2 separate regions of the Homo sapiens genome follow, and region 2 is linked to region 1. A link means that fine-mapping ties the variant in region 1 to the expression of a gene that starts in the linked region. Tissue or cell type: whole blood. Region 1 holds a variant in brackets; the other region holds the start of a gene. All regions are shown on one strand. Distances are from middle to middle.

Region 1 (8,103 bases):
CAGTAATACCGTCTCAAACAAAACAAAAACAACAACTATACATACATATATATATAAATTTGGATAGTGATGGAAGTGTCAAATAGCTTCATAAATACCAAAAAAACAAAACAAAACACACACACACACACTCAAGCCTCAAGCGGGCATGGTGTCACATGCTGTAATCCCAGCACTTTGGGAGGCCGAGACGAGTGGATCCCTTGAGGTCAGGAGTTCGAGACCAGCCTGGCCAATATGGTGAAACCCTGTCTCTACTAAAAATACAACAATTAATCGGGCGTGGTGGTGTGCCAGTAATCCCAGCTACTCAGGAGGCTGAGGCAGGAGAATTGCTTGAACCCAGGAGGCGGAGGTTGCAGTGAGCCGAGATCGCGCCACTGCACTCCAGCCTGGGTGACAGAGTGAGGCGCTGTCTCAAAAAAAAAAAAAAAAAAAATTAGCCCAGCGTGGTGGTCTGCGCCTGTAGTTCCAACTGCTTGGGAGGCTAAGGTGGGAGGATCGATGCCCAGGAAGTTGAGGCTCCAATGAGCTGAGATCGAACTACTACACTCCAGCCTGGGTGACAGAAACCCTGTCCAAAAAAAAAAAGAAAAACCAAACCCAAGCCTCACCTCTGTCTTTATATATGGGGGATGAGACACCATCCACACACTAAATCAATATCATGTCATAAAATACCATATGTACAGAATGCCAGGTAACTTCTCTAGGCAGCCAGATTTGCACAGCAATCGCCAGAGTGCTGAAATAATATATGTGAAATGTGTAAACTGTAAAGTGTTCTGCAAACAGACATTGTGATATAATCTCCTGGTGATATGTTAGTTACTGATAAGGTCTCATGATGATGGTGAAGAAGCCCTTTGCTGTTCTCAGAAGTCCTCACTGGTTAGAAAACCGTCATAGAAAGAACTGGAACTCCAGAATCAGAAACCAGGGTTTTGAGTTCTGGTAGATCCTTCCTCTCACTGTTCTCATGCCAAAGCCCTCTTCCAAGGATGGCAAAAATCCCAAGTGGCAGAAATAAAAATGATTCTGTCTGTGTTACAGCCAAGCTAGTTCCCTATGGGTGGATGAGTCACATGTGAGCAGAGCTGGGAGAACTACATTTACATTCCTTTACATTTCCCTCTTTCCACCCTCCTTTCCACTGCCCTGTGTTGGCTCCTGTCGCTATGACAAAAAACTTGCTCAAGAAACCCCAGCTTAGTTTCTCTATGGGGAGGAAGGTGGCAAGCTACCTGGGTAGCTGTGGTTCTTGTTGGTGAAGCCCATGGCCCAGTGGGGCGGTGTCTTTGTACAAATCCACACACGTCCTCCCCTGTGCTCCAAATTGTGAGTGCACATCCCCAAAGACTTTTTTTTTTTTTTGAGACAGAGTTTTGCCCTTGTTGCCCAGGCTGGAATGCAGTGGCACGATCTCGGCTCAACCACAACCTCCGCCTCCCAGGTTCAAGCAATTCTCCTGCCTCAGCCTCCTGAGTAGCTGGGATTACAAGTATGCACCACCACGTCCAGGTAATTTTGTATTTTTAGTAGAGAGGGGGTTTCACCATGTTGGCCAGGCTGGTCTCGGGCTCCCGACCTCAAGTGATCCACCCGCCTCGGCCTCCCAAAGTGCTGGGATTACAGGCGTGGGCCACTGCGCCCGGCCTCCCCTTCATACTTGACTATCCCTGTGTCATAAGGACTCAGAATCTGAGGGTTTTGTCATAATTATACACAGTCTAGAAGACCAAGCCACACTTGGGTTGGCAGCATTTAAGCTGCTGGGTCATCCTGCAAGGAGGCATATTTGTGAAACTGGATGAAGAAAAAGTAGGAAAAGCTACCTACTTTTTAAGCTCAGGAAGCATTTTATAAGATTTCCAAGGCTAACAGCTGCAGCCTCCTCTAGCTCCTCTAGCTGGGTTGACTGTAGTCCCTAAAAAGATACGTCCATATCCTAATCCCCAGAACCTGTGGATGTTATTCTATGTGGAAAAATGATCTTTTTGGATATAATTAAAGGTTTGTTTTTGGCAGGTGCAGTGGCTCATGCCTGTAATCTCAGCACTTTGGAAGGCCAAGGTGGGGGGATCACCTGAGGTCAGGAGTTCCAGGCCAGTCTGCCCAACATGATGAAACCCTGTTGCTACTAAAAATACAAAAATTAGCCGGGTGTGGTGGTGGGCGCCTGTAACCCAGCTACTCGGGAGGCTGAGGCAGGAAAATTCCTGGAACCCGGGAGTTGGAGGTTGCAGTAAACCGAGATTGCGCCACTGCACTCCAGCCTGGGCTGGACAGAGCGAGACTCCATCTCAAAAAAAAAAAAAAAAAAAAAAAGGTTTGTTTGAGACAGGATCTCAATCTGTCACCCAGGCTGGAGTGCAGTGGCGTGAACATGGCTCACTGCAACCTTGAACTTCTGAGCTCAATGGATCCTCCTACCTCAGCCTCCTGAGTAGCTAAAACTACGGCCACATGCCATCACACCCAGCTAATTTTTATATTTTTGTAGAGACAGTATGTCACTGTGTTGCCCAGGCCAGTCTCCAATTCCTGGGCTCAAGAGATCTACCCATCTCAGCTTCCCAAAGTGCTGGGATCACAGGCTTGAGGCACTGCACCTAACCTAATTCGGAATTTTTAAGTGAGGTGATCATCCAGGATTATCCAGGTAGGACTTAAATCCAATGGCAAGTGTCCTAATAAGAGTAAGGCACATTGGCCAGGTGTGGTGGCTCACACTTGTAATCCCAGCACTTTGGGAGGCTGAGGCAGGCGGATCACTTGACCCCAGGAGTTCGAGACCAGCCTGGTTAACATGCTGAAACCCTGTCTCTACTAAAAATACAAAAATTAGCTGGTTATGGTGGTGCACACCTATAATCCCAGCCACTCAGGAGGCTGAGGCACAAGAATTGCTTGAACCCAGGGAGCAGAGGTTGCAGTGAGCCAAGATCGTACCACTGCACTCCAACCTGGGCGACAGAGCAAGACTTTGTCTCAAAAAAAAAAAAAAAAAAAAAAAGTGAAGCACATACCAAAAAGAGTAAGGCAAGCCAGCGTGGTGGCCCATGCCTATTTTGCCAGTTACTTGGGAGGCTGAGGTGGGAGGATCTCTTGAGCCCAGGAGTTCGAGACCAGCCTGGGCAACACAGTGAGACCCCATCTCTAAAAACAAACAAAAGAGCGAAGGAGAAGGAGGTCAGATACAGAGAAATAGATGCACAGAGGAGAAGATCCTGGGAAAATGGAGGCAGAGATTGGAATGACAGGCTGTAAACCAAGGGATGCTAAAGATTGCTGGCAGCCACAAAAGCTAGGAGAAAGGCAAGGAAAGATTCGAGGCTTGGTGCAGTGGCTCATGCCTGTAATCCCAGCACTTTAGGAGGCTGAGGCTGGAGGATCACTTGAGGCCAGGAAGTTCAAGACCATCCTGGTTAACATCTCTACAAAAACTAAAAAAAAAAAAATTAGCCAGGCATGGCAGTGCATACCTGTACTCTCAGCTACTGGGGACGCTGAAGAAGGAGGATCCCTTGAATTTGAGGCTTCAGTCAGCTGTGATCATGCCACTGCACTCCAGCCTAGATGACAGAACAAGACTCCATCTCAAAAAAAAAAAAAAAAAAAATTTTACCCCGGAGCCTGGGGAGTGTGGCCCTGCCAACACTTTAATTTTGGATTTCTGGCCTCCAGAACTGTGAGAGAATATATTTCTGTCATTTGAAGCCACTCATTTACAGTAACTGGTTACAGCCACCCTGGGAAACGAATACACCTGGTCTCTGCTGTGGTGCTCAGTGTTACCAACCGGTCCTCACTTTCCCAGTTCTTAGCTGTGTCCCTCTGCAAATCTTAGCACCTCTCTGATTTTCAGTCTCCTCCTTTGTAAAACGGGAAGAGTAAGTCCTACTCTGCCAGGTTGTTGTGAGGCCATGGTGACAGAGTGCTGAGCGGAATGCCAGGTGTACCACAGACGCAACTTACGCATGAGTTCCCATCCTCCCCCTTCTCCACCCTGGTCCAACCTCACCTTGGGCACAGAGCTCCCATTGCAAGGCTGAGGAGCAGGGTTCCTATACCTTTT[C/T]CTGGGACTCGGGTTCATTGGTGATGTCCAGAATAGTGCATGACCCTGCCTTCTTGACAAATCCTCCCAGACATCTCATCAGCATCTCAAATCCAATGTGTCCAAAGGTGAACTCTTGATCTTTCCTTCTTTTTCTGTCTCTTTCACAGTTTACCTCATCTCAATAAATGGTATTTCCAGGTAGCTAAACATCTGGACGTCATTTTTGCTTTCTTTTTTCTTTTCTTTTTTTTTTTTTGAGACAGAGTCTCACTCTGTTGCCTGGGCTGGAGTGCAGTGGCATGATCTTTGCTCATTGCAACCTCCATCTCCTGGGTTTAAGCGATTCTCCTGCCTCAGCCTCCAAGTAGCTGGGATTACAGGCATGCGCCACCACACCCAGCTAATTTTTTTTTTTTGAGATGGAGTCTTGCTCTGTTGCCCAGGCTGGAGTGCAATGGCGCAATCTTGGCTCACTGCAAACTCCGCGTCCTGGGTTCAAGCAATTCTCCTGCCTCAGCCTCCTGAGTAGCTGGGATTACAGGCGCATGCCACCATGCCAAACTAAATTTTGTAATTTTAGTAGAGACGGGATTTCATCATGTTGGTCAGGCTGGCCTTGAACTCCTGACCTCATGATCTTCCCGCCTCAGCCTCCAAAAGTGCTGGGATTACAGGCATGAGCCACTGTGCCCGGCCGTGATGATGGTGTTGTGTTTTGTTTTTTGTTTTTTTTTTTGAGACGGAGTCTTACTCTGTCGCCCAGGCTGGAGTGCAGTGGTGTGATTTCAGCTCACTGCAACCTCCGCCCCTGAGTTCAAGCGATTCTCCTGCCTCAGCCTGCCGAGTAGCTGGGATTACAGGCACCTGCCACCGTGCCTGGCTAATTTTTGTGTTTTTAGTAGAGACGGGGTTTCACCATCTTGGCCAGGCTAGTCTTGAACTGCTGACCTCATGACCCACCTGCCTCGGCCTCCCTGGGATTATAGGCGTGAGCCACCATGCCCGGCTGTGATGATGTTTTTCTCTTGGTTTATCATGGCCACAGAGTAGCCTTGTCTGGTGTTCATGTATTGTGAAATTATTTACTTCAGTGGAACATCAAGGCCTAGCTGATAGTACCAGGCCCACTACCACATGCCAGGGCTTCATTTCCTTTCTCAGAACTCACACCCGTTCCCAAATGTTACCAAGCTGTTCCTTGCCTAAGAGGCTCTTTTCCATTCCCCAGCCAAACACTACTTTTTTCAAGTCAAACTGCACAAAATTCCATCTCTCCTGTGAGGTCTTCCCAAAGACAGTGAAACCACCTTTGCAATATTATAACTGATACAGTGAAAGTGATCTAACTTAACCAACTCCATCTTGTTTTTAACCTCCAAGCTGTCCTTGTTCATTCCTGGGCGTAGGCTGAACTAACTTTGGGAGAAATTTATTTATAATTTACAGTGAAACAAAGACAATGGCTGGGCACAGTGGCTCATGCCTGTAATCCCAGCACTTTGAGAGGCCGAGGTGGGTGGATCACTTGAGGTCAGGAGTTCGAGACCAATCTGACCAATATGGTGAAACCCCGTTTCTACTAAAAATACAAAAATCAGCTGAGCATGGTGGCGTGTGACTGTAGTCCTAGCTACCAGGGAGGCTGAGACAGGAGAATTGCTTGAACCCAGAAGGCAGAGATTGCACCGCTGCACTCCAGCCTAGGCAACAGAGAGAGACTCTGTCTCGAAAATAAATACATACGTACATACATACAATACATAAAACAAAGACGATAACAGCCCTTTCCCAAAGCAGACCATCTTCCTTCTTGCCTAGGGACTAGGTTGCCTCTGTAGGACTAACATTAGCTGCAAGATTATAAATAATTATGGTTTAGGAGTCATGCAGCTGGAGGATACAAGATTCTGACCCTCCCTAAACTGCTCCTAAGATCAGTGCTTGAGATATTTTGCAGACCCTGCACTTGATGGATCAGCTGGCCCCACCCAGGTCGATAAACTGGCTCACCTGATCTTGTGGCCCCCATCCAGGAACTGACTCAGAGCAAGAAGACAACATCGACGGCCTATGATTTCATCCCTGACCAGTCAGCACTCCTGGCTCACTGGCTTCCCCCAAATCACCAAGTTATTCTTAAAAACTCTGCTCCCCGACTGGGCATGGTGGCTCATGCCTGTAATCCCAGCACTTTGGGAGGCAGAGGCGGGTGGATCACCTGAGGTCAGGAGTTCGAGACCAGCCTGGCCAACATGGTGAAACCCCGTCTCTACTAAAAATACAAAATTAGCTGGGCATGGTGGCGCATGCCTGTAATCCCAGCTACTCTGGGTGCTGAGGCAGAATTCCCTGAGCCCAGGAGGTGGAGACCGCAGTGAGCTGAGATTGCGCCACCACACTCCAGCCTAGGTGGCAGAGCGAGACTCCGTCTCAGAACAAAACAAAACAAAAAACCAAAACACCACCACCAACAACAAAAACTCTGCTCCCCCAATGCTTGGGGAAACTGACTTGAGTAATAATAAAACTCCGGTATCCTGCACAGCTGGCTCTGCGTGAATTACTCTTTCTCTGTTGCAATTCCCCTGTCTTGATGAGTTGGCTCAGGCAAAGTGAACCCCTTGGGTCGTTACAACAGTACTACTGTCTCCATAGAATTAGCTTTCCTGAGTGCATCCAAAAATCTTAATTGGTGACCAGGCATGGTAGTTCATGCCTGTAATCAAAGCAATTTGGGAAGCTGAGGCTAGAGGATGGCTTGAGCCCAGGAGTTCAAGGCCAGTCTGGGCAACATAGTGAGACCTTGTCTCTATAAAACCAAAAACCAAAAACCTTGGTGGGCATAGCATACTTAGTCTTCAAATGTGTACCTACCTTGAAGTATTTTACTTGTTTCACATATATTTTTATTCAGTTCCCAGTAGGTTGTAAATCTTTTAGAGGCAAAGTCCATTTCTTACACTTCAATATCCCCTGCAACTGAGCACCCTGCTGAAGGACAGGTTGGTCTTAGTTGGCATGTTGGTTGGTCTGAATAAGGGGAGGGGGCGAACAGTTTGCTTCTGCAACACAGCTCTGAAAACACAGCTCTAGGCTAGCAGGGGAGAAGCTCCCAGCTTGCCCCTTTCCCAGGCAAAACCATTTCTTTTTTTTAATTTTTAATTTTTTATTTTTTGAGACAGAGTCTTACTCTGTCGTCCAGGCTGGAGTGCAGTGATGTGATCTCAGCCTTTTTGTGTTTTTTTTTCTTTTTTTTGAGACGGAGTCTCACTCTGTCACCCAGGCTGGAGTGCAGTGGCGCGATCTCGGCTCACTGTAAGCTCTGCCTCCCAAGTTCACGCCATTCTCCTGCCTCAGCCTCCCGAGTAGCTGGGACTACAGGCGCCCGCCACCACGCCTGGCTAATTTTTTTTGTATTTTTAGTAGAGACAGGGTTTCACCGTGTTAGCCAGGATGGTCTCAATCTCCTGACCTCGTGATCTGCCCGCCTGGGCCTCCCAAAGTGCTGGGATTACAGGCGTGAGCCACCACGCCTGGCCGTGATCTCAGCTTACTGCAACCTCTGCCTTCCCGGTTCAAGCGATTCTCATGCCTCAGCCTCCTGAGTAGCTGGGATGACCGGCACGTGCCCCATGCCTGGCTAATTTTTGTATTTTTAATAGAGAGGGGTTTCACCATGTTGGCCAGGTGGGTCTCAAACTCCTGGCCTCAGGTGATCTGCCCACCTCGGTCTCCTATTGGGATTATAGGCGTGAGCCACCGCAACCGGCCTTCTAATTTCCCTTTTGGAGCATTCATTCCGTTGCAAGAGCTTATTTAATTTTTATTTATTTATTTATTTATTTATTTTTGAGACAGAGTTTTGCTCTTGTTGCCCAGGCTGGAGGGCTATCACGCCATCTTGGCTCACCGCAACCTTCGCCTCCTGGGTCCAAGTGATTGTCCTGCCTCAGGCTCCTGAGTAGCTGGGATTACAGGCATGTGCCACCATGCCCTGCTAATTTTGTATTTTCACTAGAGATGGGTTTTCTCCATGTTGGTCA
Region 2 (8,103 bases), 510 kb before region 1:
CCGGCAGGCACAAGGCAGACTCGACCACCAAGCTGGGTTTCTGTAGGTCTGGAATCTGGCCAGAAGGCTGCAGCCGCATGCAGCCTGGGGGTAGGCACCTCTGCCCTCAGCCCTAATGGGCAGCAACTCCCCCTCCTGCCACAAGCTCCCCACATGAGGGAGGGCAGTTTTTAGTTCAACCTATTCAGTCTAACCCCAGGGAAGAGGCTGCTCCATGTCCAGCTGCATTCCTGGAGCCCCAAAACTGACATATATGGTCAGAGAATCAGCAGGGCAGATAAGGAGAGCAGACAAGCCCTGGGGGTGGGCAGGAAGAAGAGGGGGAGAGCTGCCATCCCAGAGCCACAGACTCTGGGCTCTGAGGCCACTTGACAACCTCCTGCACACATCACATCACAGCCAAGGGCCCTGGATGGTGAGCCCTCTCCCTGTGCCTAGCAACAGCCACCCTATCACCAGGGCAACCACACGGATTGAGTGGTAACGCTGTTTCATGCTCCCAAGCCAAAGCCAACCAGCGAAAACAGCCCAAAAAAACCCTCTTCTTCCTCTCCCTGTCCCCTGTCCTCATCCACTACCCCTGGTTACCACCAAAATATAATCCCTTCCCAAGAACACAGAGAAGAATGATCCCTCACGGTCAGGAATGCATTTCTCTGAGTGATGCCAAAGCCCAGCTCCCTCACTCCCCTTCAGCCTTCAACCCTTCAACCCTTCAACCCTTCAATATCTACATGTGCTTCCTGCCATCCAGCCAGGAGGCTGTGGGAGCTGCTCCCCATAGCGACCTCCAGCTGGGTAATAAAGACAGAATCCAGCTCAAAGCAACCCCCTCCAGGCCAGAGCCTTCTCTCTACCCTTTCTATTCAGCCTGTCACTGCCCAGGGACCAGGGGCTCCTTCAGCCCCACCTACAGCTATCCCAGAGACATCTTTCTGCACAAAGTAGGTGCTGATGCCATGAAATGATGAGGTAGTATGGAGAGCTGGATTATCATCCTGCCTAAGCCAGTGAGCTGCAAAGATGCTGAGCAAGTCCTTTTCCTACTTGGGCCTAAATTTCCTCCTCTGTAGAGGCAATGGCGCCTCCCAGAAATATAATTCTCCAGTGTTCAGAAATACTTTGTGCTGCAGTGAACAACAGGATTAGAAGGAGCAGCCGGGGCCGGGCACGGTGGCTCATGCCTGTAATCCTAGCACTTTGGGAGCCCAAGGTGGGTGGGTCACCAGAGGTCAGGAGTTCAAGACCAGCCTTGCCAACATGGTGAAACCCCATCTCTACTAAAAGTACAAAAAAAAAAAATAGCCAGGCATGGTGGTGGGTGCCTGTAATCCCAGCTACTCAGGTGGCTGAGGCAGGAGAATCACTTGAACCCAGGGGGTGGAGGTTGCAGTGAGCTGAGATCAAGCTACTTCACTCCAGCCTGGGCAAAAGAGCAAAACTCTGTTTCAAAAAAAAAAAAAAAAGGAGCAGCTGGGAGCTGGGGTGGATGTGAAGGAGGGAGAAGGACACCATCTAAAAGGGAGCTGAACTTGAACTTCACCTCTTTTCCAGTGACTGCTCTTCTATGCTGTCAGTTCTTCCAGACATGACCTCCCTCAACGCCCCCACATAACCTCCTTTCCCAGCATAACTAAGCCCAGTGGTTCCCATCTCCCAGTCAGACTGGCCCCTCCCACTACCCCCAACCCACAGTTTAACTTCTGAGCCTGGAAGTTAAACTCCCATTCAGTGGGAGGGTGAGGAAGCTAGCACAGGGAAATTCTAACATCAAGTAGTAGAAATGAAGTATCCTGCCTGTTTAAGACACCAGCCACCCACAAGCCTGCTCTACTCTGTGCAAAATACACCCAACTCTGAGATTAATTTTTCCATTCTCAGCAGGTAAACCTTTACAAAAATCTTAAGGATCACCTTAGGCAATCACTTTTAGGAAGTTGTAGACTTTTCTGAAATTGGTAACATGTGTGGACTTTTTCCCTAAGAAAACTTAGGAGATGTATGCAATTTTAAGAGGTTCATACACCTTCTGAGAATCACTGTTTAAGAACTTCTGGTCTATTCAGAATGACACCTGATATATAGTAGATGCTATCATTTGTTGAATGAATGAACCAATTAATTCATCTCCTAAGTAAAGAAGGGAACCCACACTTGTTGAGGGCCTATATAGGACCATGAACTGGGGACACAAACTCAACCTCACGATAGCACTGATGAGGCATGTTCTACTAAGCTCATTTTACAGTGAGGAAAGAGAGGACCAGCCGGGCACGGTGGTTCACGGCTGTAATCCCAGCACTTTGGGAGGCCGAGGCGGGCGGATCACAAGGTCAGGATTTGGAGACCAACCTGGCCAAGATGGTGAAACCCCATCTCTACTAAAAATACAAAAATTAGCCGGGTGTGGTGGCGCGCGCCTGTACTCCCAGCTACCTGGGAGGCTGAGGCAGAAGAATCGCTTGAACCCGGGAGGCGGAGGTTGCAGTGAGCCGAGATCACGCCACTGCACTCCAGCCTGGGCGACAGAGTGAGACTCCGTCTAAAAAAAAAAAAAGAAAAGAAATCATATTCTCAACGTTGGAATCGGCCTCCCAGTTGCAAATCCCACCACAATACAACAGCAATTACAACTCTCAACTACAATTATGTTTGCATAGAGCTTCACGGTTTACAAAGCCCAGGTTACGTTTTGCAATTATCCTGTTTCACAGATTAAGAAGTTGAACTGAGGCCGGGCGCAGTGGCTCACGTCTATAATCCCAGCACTTTGGGAGGCGGGGGCGGGAGGATCACGAGGTCAGGAGTTCGAGACCAGCCTGGCCAACATGGTGAAACCCTGTCTCTACTAAAAATACAAAAATTAGCCGGGCGTGGTGGCGGACGCCTGTAATCCCAGCTACTCAGGAGGCTGAGGCAGGAGAATCGCTTGAATCCGGGAGGCGGAGGTTGCAGTGAACCGAGACTCCAGCCTGGGCAATAAGAGTGAAACTCCGTCTTAAAAAAATAAATAAGTTGAACTGAAAGCGTGGCCTAATAAGTGGCAAGGAGGAACACTTCCCCCAAATTTCTTCTTCTTAGTGCTTTGCCAGATCAGATCTGGGAGATTTCCCCCTCCCGCCGGCTTGCTGGATGACAGCGATCCGGCCTGGACTCTGCCCTGGGGAAGGCAGGAAGAAGGTAGTGAAAATGATTAAGTCCTCTTATTGCAGGCGCCAAAATGGGGCAGAAACCCTGCAGGAAGGCCAGGCCTCTGAGCCCAGTTCCACCCCCGTTCCCCTCCTCGGATCTGCTCCGGTCCTCCCCATCCGGACCCCATCCCTTCGGACGACCTGGCCAGCTCCTTTCCTTTCCCCATCCCCACCCGGGGAGACCCCGCGCCCAGCAGCTCACCGCGCTCGGGCACTGCTCCCTCTGCCACGCCTGTCAAGGCTCGGCAAACATCCGGCTCCGCGGTGGAACGGGAACCGCCCCCTCCCGCTCTCTTCTATCCCCAACCATTTCCGCCACACCTCCAACCCACTTCCGGCCCCAAACATGGCCTTTCCAGGAGCCCCGCCCACTTCCTGCACATGCCCGCCTAAGTTCCTGCCTCGGGGAGGTAACAGCATAACTGTCCGACTCGTCGCTCCCAAAGAGATGGCTGGAACAATTAGTTCCGCTTTCCCAGCTAGTCGAATCACTGGTGCACCTCCGGAATCCGAGGTTCGCATTGCTCTCGGACAGAGTTCTGCCTCCCCAGTACTCCCAAACTCCCAGTCCTGTGCACCAATGAGGTCCAGCTCTGAGGCTTCTTTCCTGAGAAAAAAATTTGGAAGTCCGTGACTGTTTCCTGGAGGAGCTGAGAAGAGGAAGCTCACTTCCGGCGTAGGGAGGCTTTCTGACCCGGAATGGAGGAGGCGGAGGAGCTGCTCTTGGAGGGGAAGAAGGCGCTGCAACTCGGTGAGTGACCTGCGATGTCCGCGACCCTCAACCTTGGCCCAGGTGGATCTGACGCTCTGTGGTCAGCTTTCTCCTCAGTCTTCTCTCCTCCGGATCCCAGGATCCTCCAGTGCCCTCAGAGTCGCTGGGGGCTTCTGAAGAGCCCTTGAGCCTCCTCAAAACTTTCAGGGCCCTCCTTAGAGCCCTCACCTGTCCCTCGGGCTCCGCAGGCCCACCTGGACCTGCGGTTTCCTCCCACACTTTTCCCCACCTCCCACCTTCTTGGGTGGCTCCCTCACTGTCTTCCCTTCTCTCTGCAGCCCGCGAGCCGCGCCTGGGCCTGGACTTAGGATGGAACCCTTCCGGAGAAGGCTGTACGCAGGGCCTCAAAGACGTCCCACCCGAGCCGACCCGAGACATCCTCGCTTTAAAGAGCCTTCCCCGGGGCTTGGCCCTTGGCCCCTCACTCGCCAAGGAACAGCGCTTGGGGGTCTGGTGTGTCGGGGACCCCCTGCAGCCCGGCCTGCTGTGGGGGCCGCTGGAAGAGGAGTCTGCCTCCAAGGAGAAGGGCGAGGGAGTAAAGCCACGGCAGGAGGAGGTATTGAAGGATAGAGCGACTTCCCTCCGCCCTTGAAAATGTAGGGGAGGTTTGGACATTGCTAGACAGCTTTTCAATTTGAAGAAAGAGAGTATTTCAAGAGATAGGAGATAGTCTTGTCCCTTCTCTTCAGGACTGTCTCCTCTCAGCAGCAGTAGTTAAAGAATCGAGGTTTGAAAAGTTGTTGAAAGCTGGAATCATACAGTGTCAGCAGTGAGTGAGGAAGGTCAAGAGCTAAGGTTTTTGGAATTAAGAAAGCATGGGATCAAATTCCAGCTTTGTCACCTAGCTGGTTAAATTACGTGCCGCATTTAATTCATCTGTGAAACAAAGCAGTGGCTCTCTTGGGATTATATGGAGGAGCTGATGAAATAGTGAAGATAAAAGGTTTCACTGCACAATAAGTACCATTTTATTTTATTTATTTTTCTTTTTTCTTAGACAGTCTTGCTTTGTCGCCCAGGCTGGAGTGCAGTGGCACGATCTCGCCTTATTGCAACCTCCACTTCCCAGGTTCAAGTGATTCTCATGCCTCAGCCTCCCGAGTAGCTGGGATTACAGATGTGCACCACCACACCCAGCTAATTTTTGTATTTTTAGTAGAGACAGGGTTTCACCATGTTGGTGAGGCTGGTCTCAAACTCCTGGCCTCAAGTAATCCGCCTGCCTGGGCCTCCCAAAGTGCTGAGATTACAGGTGTGAGCCCCCGCGCCTGGCCCAATAAATACCATTTTAAAAAGCTGGTGTTCCTTATTACTTTTTCTGTTTAGTACTCACTGGAAGACAGTAATGTGTTCAATTTAGTAATTCTCCATACCCTTGGGAGGGAGGTGAGGAGACAGACTTTTTGGTCCTTACTGAATGAAGAATCAGACAGCACTGTCCTGTTAGAGGAGAACCAGAGGCTTCTAACCTTCCAGGAGTTTCATCTTAAATTTGTCCCAGGAAAGTTTCATCTAGTTTCTTTTTTTATTCCTACCCGACCCCTCGAACACATTTGAGAAGGACTTTTGTTGGTTTATTTCAGAACCTGTCATTAGGCCCATGGGGAGACGTGTGTGCCTGTGAGCAGAGTTCTGGCTGGACTAGGTAAGTCAGAGGAGAGTGTGTCGTTCCTTTGAGGTTTTCTGTTGTGGTTTGGGATGGAACCCGGTGCTGACTGTCATTTCCTATTCAGTGCTCTTTTGCAGTGAATGTTCCAAAGGCACGGCGTCCTTTAGGACCCAGACTGCTTGGGGACTGGGGCTTTCGGGGAAGACCACTTGAATAGTGAGCATCTCCTAGCTGGCTGTTACTTTGCTTTGCAGCTTGGTACAACGGGGCAGGCTGGAGAGTGAGGGAAATGTGGCCCCAGTGCGGATCAGCGAGAGGCTTCATCTGCAAGTGTACCAGCTGGTGCTGCCAGGCTCTGAACTGCTGCTGTGGCCCCAGCCTTCCTCTGAGGGCCCAAGTCTCACCCAGCCTGGGCTGGACAAAGAGGCAGCTGTAGCAGTGGTGACAGAAGTGGAGTCTGCTGTACAGCAGGAAGTGGCCTCCCCTGGGGAGGATGCAGCAGAACCTTGCATAGGTATGTGTCAAATAAATGCTGGTTTCCCAGCAATTTCCCCACCAAAACAACCTGTTGATAAGACAAAGCAGAGTTTATGGCTCATTGCGGTAAGGAAGGACACTATAGAGTCTTAGTAGCTTTTCAAAATCTGTTTTAAGGTGGATCTTTCAACATGGGATAGGAGGGTGGGGCTTGATTAGTATTGGGTAAGGATTATGACTGAATAGCTTAGGGTTGGTACATACAGCAAGGCTAGAATTTTCAGGCAAGGGACAGTCTCAGACTATGAATTGTCATTCATTGCTTTCTGTTGAAGAGCGACGGGTCTGTTCTTTGGAATAACAATATAGATATTTGCAACTTTTACCTTCCTAAGAGCTTCCTGGAATAGTAAGAAAGAGAGTAAGCTTTGTATGTACACGGTTTCCAGCCTCCCATGTTTCTTCTCTCTGGCGTGGGGGTTCTTTTATATTACAGATGAGCTAAGGTGGGAAGGGGTTTTTTTGTTTTGTTTTGTTTTGTTGTTGTTGTTGTTGTTGTTGTTGTTTTTTTTTTTTTTTGAGATGGAGTCTCACTCTGTCGCCCAGGCTGGAGTGCAATGGCGTGGTCTCAGCTCGCTGCAACCTCTGCCTCCCAGGTTCAGGTGATTCTCCTGCCTCAGCCTCAGCTAATTTTTTTGCATTTTTAGTAGAGATGGGGTTTCACCATGTCAGCCAGGCTGGTCTCGAACTCCTGGCCTCAAGTGATCTGCCTGTCTCTGCCTCCCAAGATGCTAGGCTTAACAGGTGTGAGCCACCGTGCCCGGCTGGAAGGGGTCTTGAATCACATCCTAAATATGTGTCTCCAGGGGCGAACAAGGGGATTCTCCATCTGGGATGGCCTTATTCTAGTGATTATCCAGATGGCTGGGACCCCATGGCTCTCAGGAGTGCTTCTCCAAAAGGCGCTTAAGGCTGGACAGGAAGATAAATGGAGTGTGCACCCCATGCTCCAGGGAAGAGATTGGTATCATTGCTCCCTCTAAGGCTCAGGGGCTGGGTGGGAGAAAACATCTGATCCTGTAATTCCCTGGTAACACCATCTGCATTGAAGCTCCCTAAACCCAGTACCCCATCCTTGCCTTGCAGATCCTGGTTCCCAGTCACCCTCTGGCATCCAGGCAGAGAATATGGTGAGCCCTGGACTTAAGTTCCCAACCCAGGACCGAATTTCCAAGGATAGCCAGCCACTTGGCCCATTGCTTCAGGATGGCGACGTGGATGAGGAATGCCCGGCCCAGGCACAGATGCCACCTGAACTTCAGAGCAATTCGGCTACCCAGCAGGACCCAGATGGCAGTGGAGCCAGTTTCTCATCTTCTGCCAGGGGCACCCAGCCGCATGGCTACCTGGCCAAGAAGTTACACAGCCCCAGTGATCAGTGCCCACCCAGAGCAAAGACCCCAGAGCCTGGAGCCCAGCAGTCTGGCTTCCCTACACTCTCGCGGAGCCCTCCTGGCCCAGCAGGAAGCTCCCCAAAGCAGGGGCGACGGTACCGGTGTGGAGAGTGTGGCAAGGCATTCCTACAGCTGTGCCACCTAAAGAAGCACGCATTTGTGCACACGGGCCACAAGCCCTTTCTTTGCACTGAGTGTGGCAAGAGCTATAGCTCAGAGGAGAGCTTCAAAGCCCATATGCTGGGCCACCGTGGGGTGCGGCCCTTCCCCTGTCCACAATGCGACAAGGCCTATGGCACCCAGCGAGACCTCAAAGAGCACCAGGTGGTACATTCAGGTGCCCGGCCCTTTGCTTGTGACCAGTGTGGCAAGGCCTTTGCCCGCCGGCCCTCCCTGCGGCTGCATCGCAAGACCCACCAGGTGCCAGCTGCCCCTGCCCCTTGCCCATGCCCTGTGTGTGGGCGGCCCCTGGCCAACCAGGGCTCCCTGCGGAACCATATGAGGCTCCATACAGGAGAAAAGCCTTTCCTGTGCCCGCACTGTGGCCGGGCGTTTCGTCAGCGGGGCAACCTGCGTGGGCATTTGCGGCTCCACACCGGG

What was found. PIP is the estimated chance that this variant, and not a neighbour inherited with it, causes the effect.
Region 2: it holds the start of ARHGAP1, and the variant in region 1 is fine-mapped to the expression of ARHGAP1 in whole blood (INTERVAL, PIP 0.95).

Annotation. Positions count from the first base shown.
Region 1 is chr11:47,203,687-47,211,789 of GRCh38, forward strand. No RefSeq gene overlaps it. Among named protein-coding and RNA genes, the nearest start is that of DDB2, 7.2 kb to the right of the region's middle. RefSeq lists a silencer at 6,027-6,206. The variant C/T (reference allele first, on the strand shown) is at 4,079.
Region 2 is chr11:46,697,158-46,705,260 of GRCh38, forward strand. It overlaps ARHGAP1 (Rho GTPase activating protein 1), which reads right to left and starts at 3,462. Exons shown (of 13, transcript NM_004308.5): 1 at 3,394-3,462. ZNF408 (zinc finger protein 408) reads left to right here and starts at 3,874. Exons shown (of 5, transcript NM_024741.3): 1 at 3,874-3,942; 2 at 4,242-4,519; 3 at 5,547-5,608; 4 at 5,827-6,086; 5 at 7,196-8,103. The coding sequence starts at 3,891. RefSeq lists a silencer at 3,218-3,337 and an enhancer at 3,668-3,957.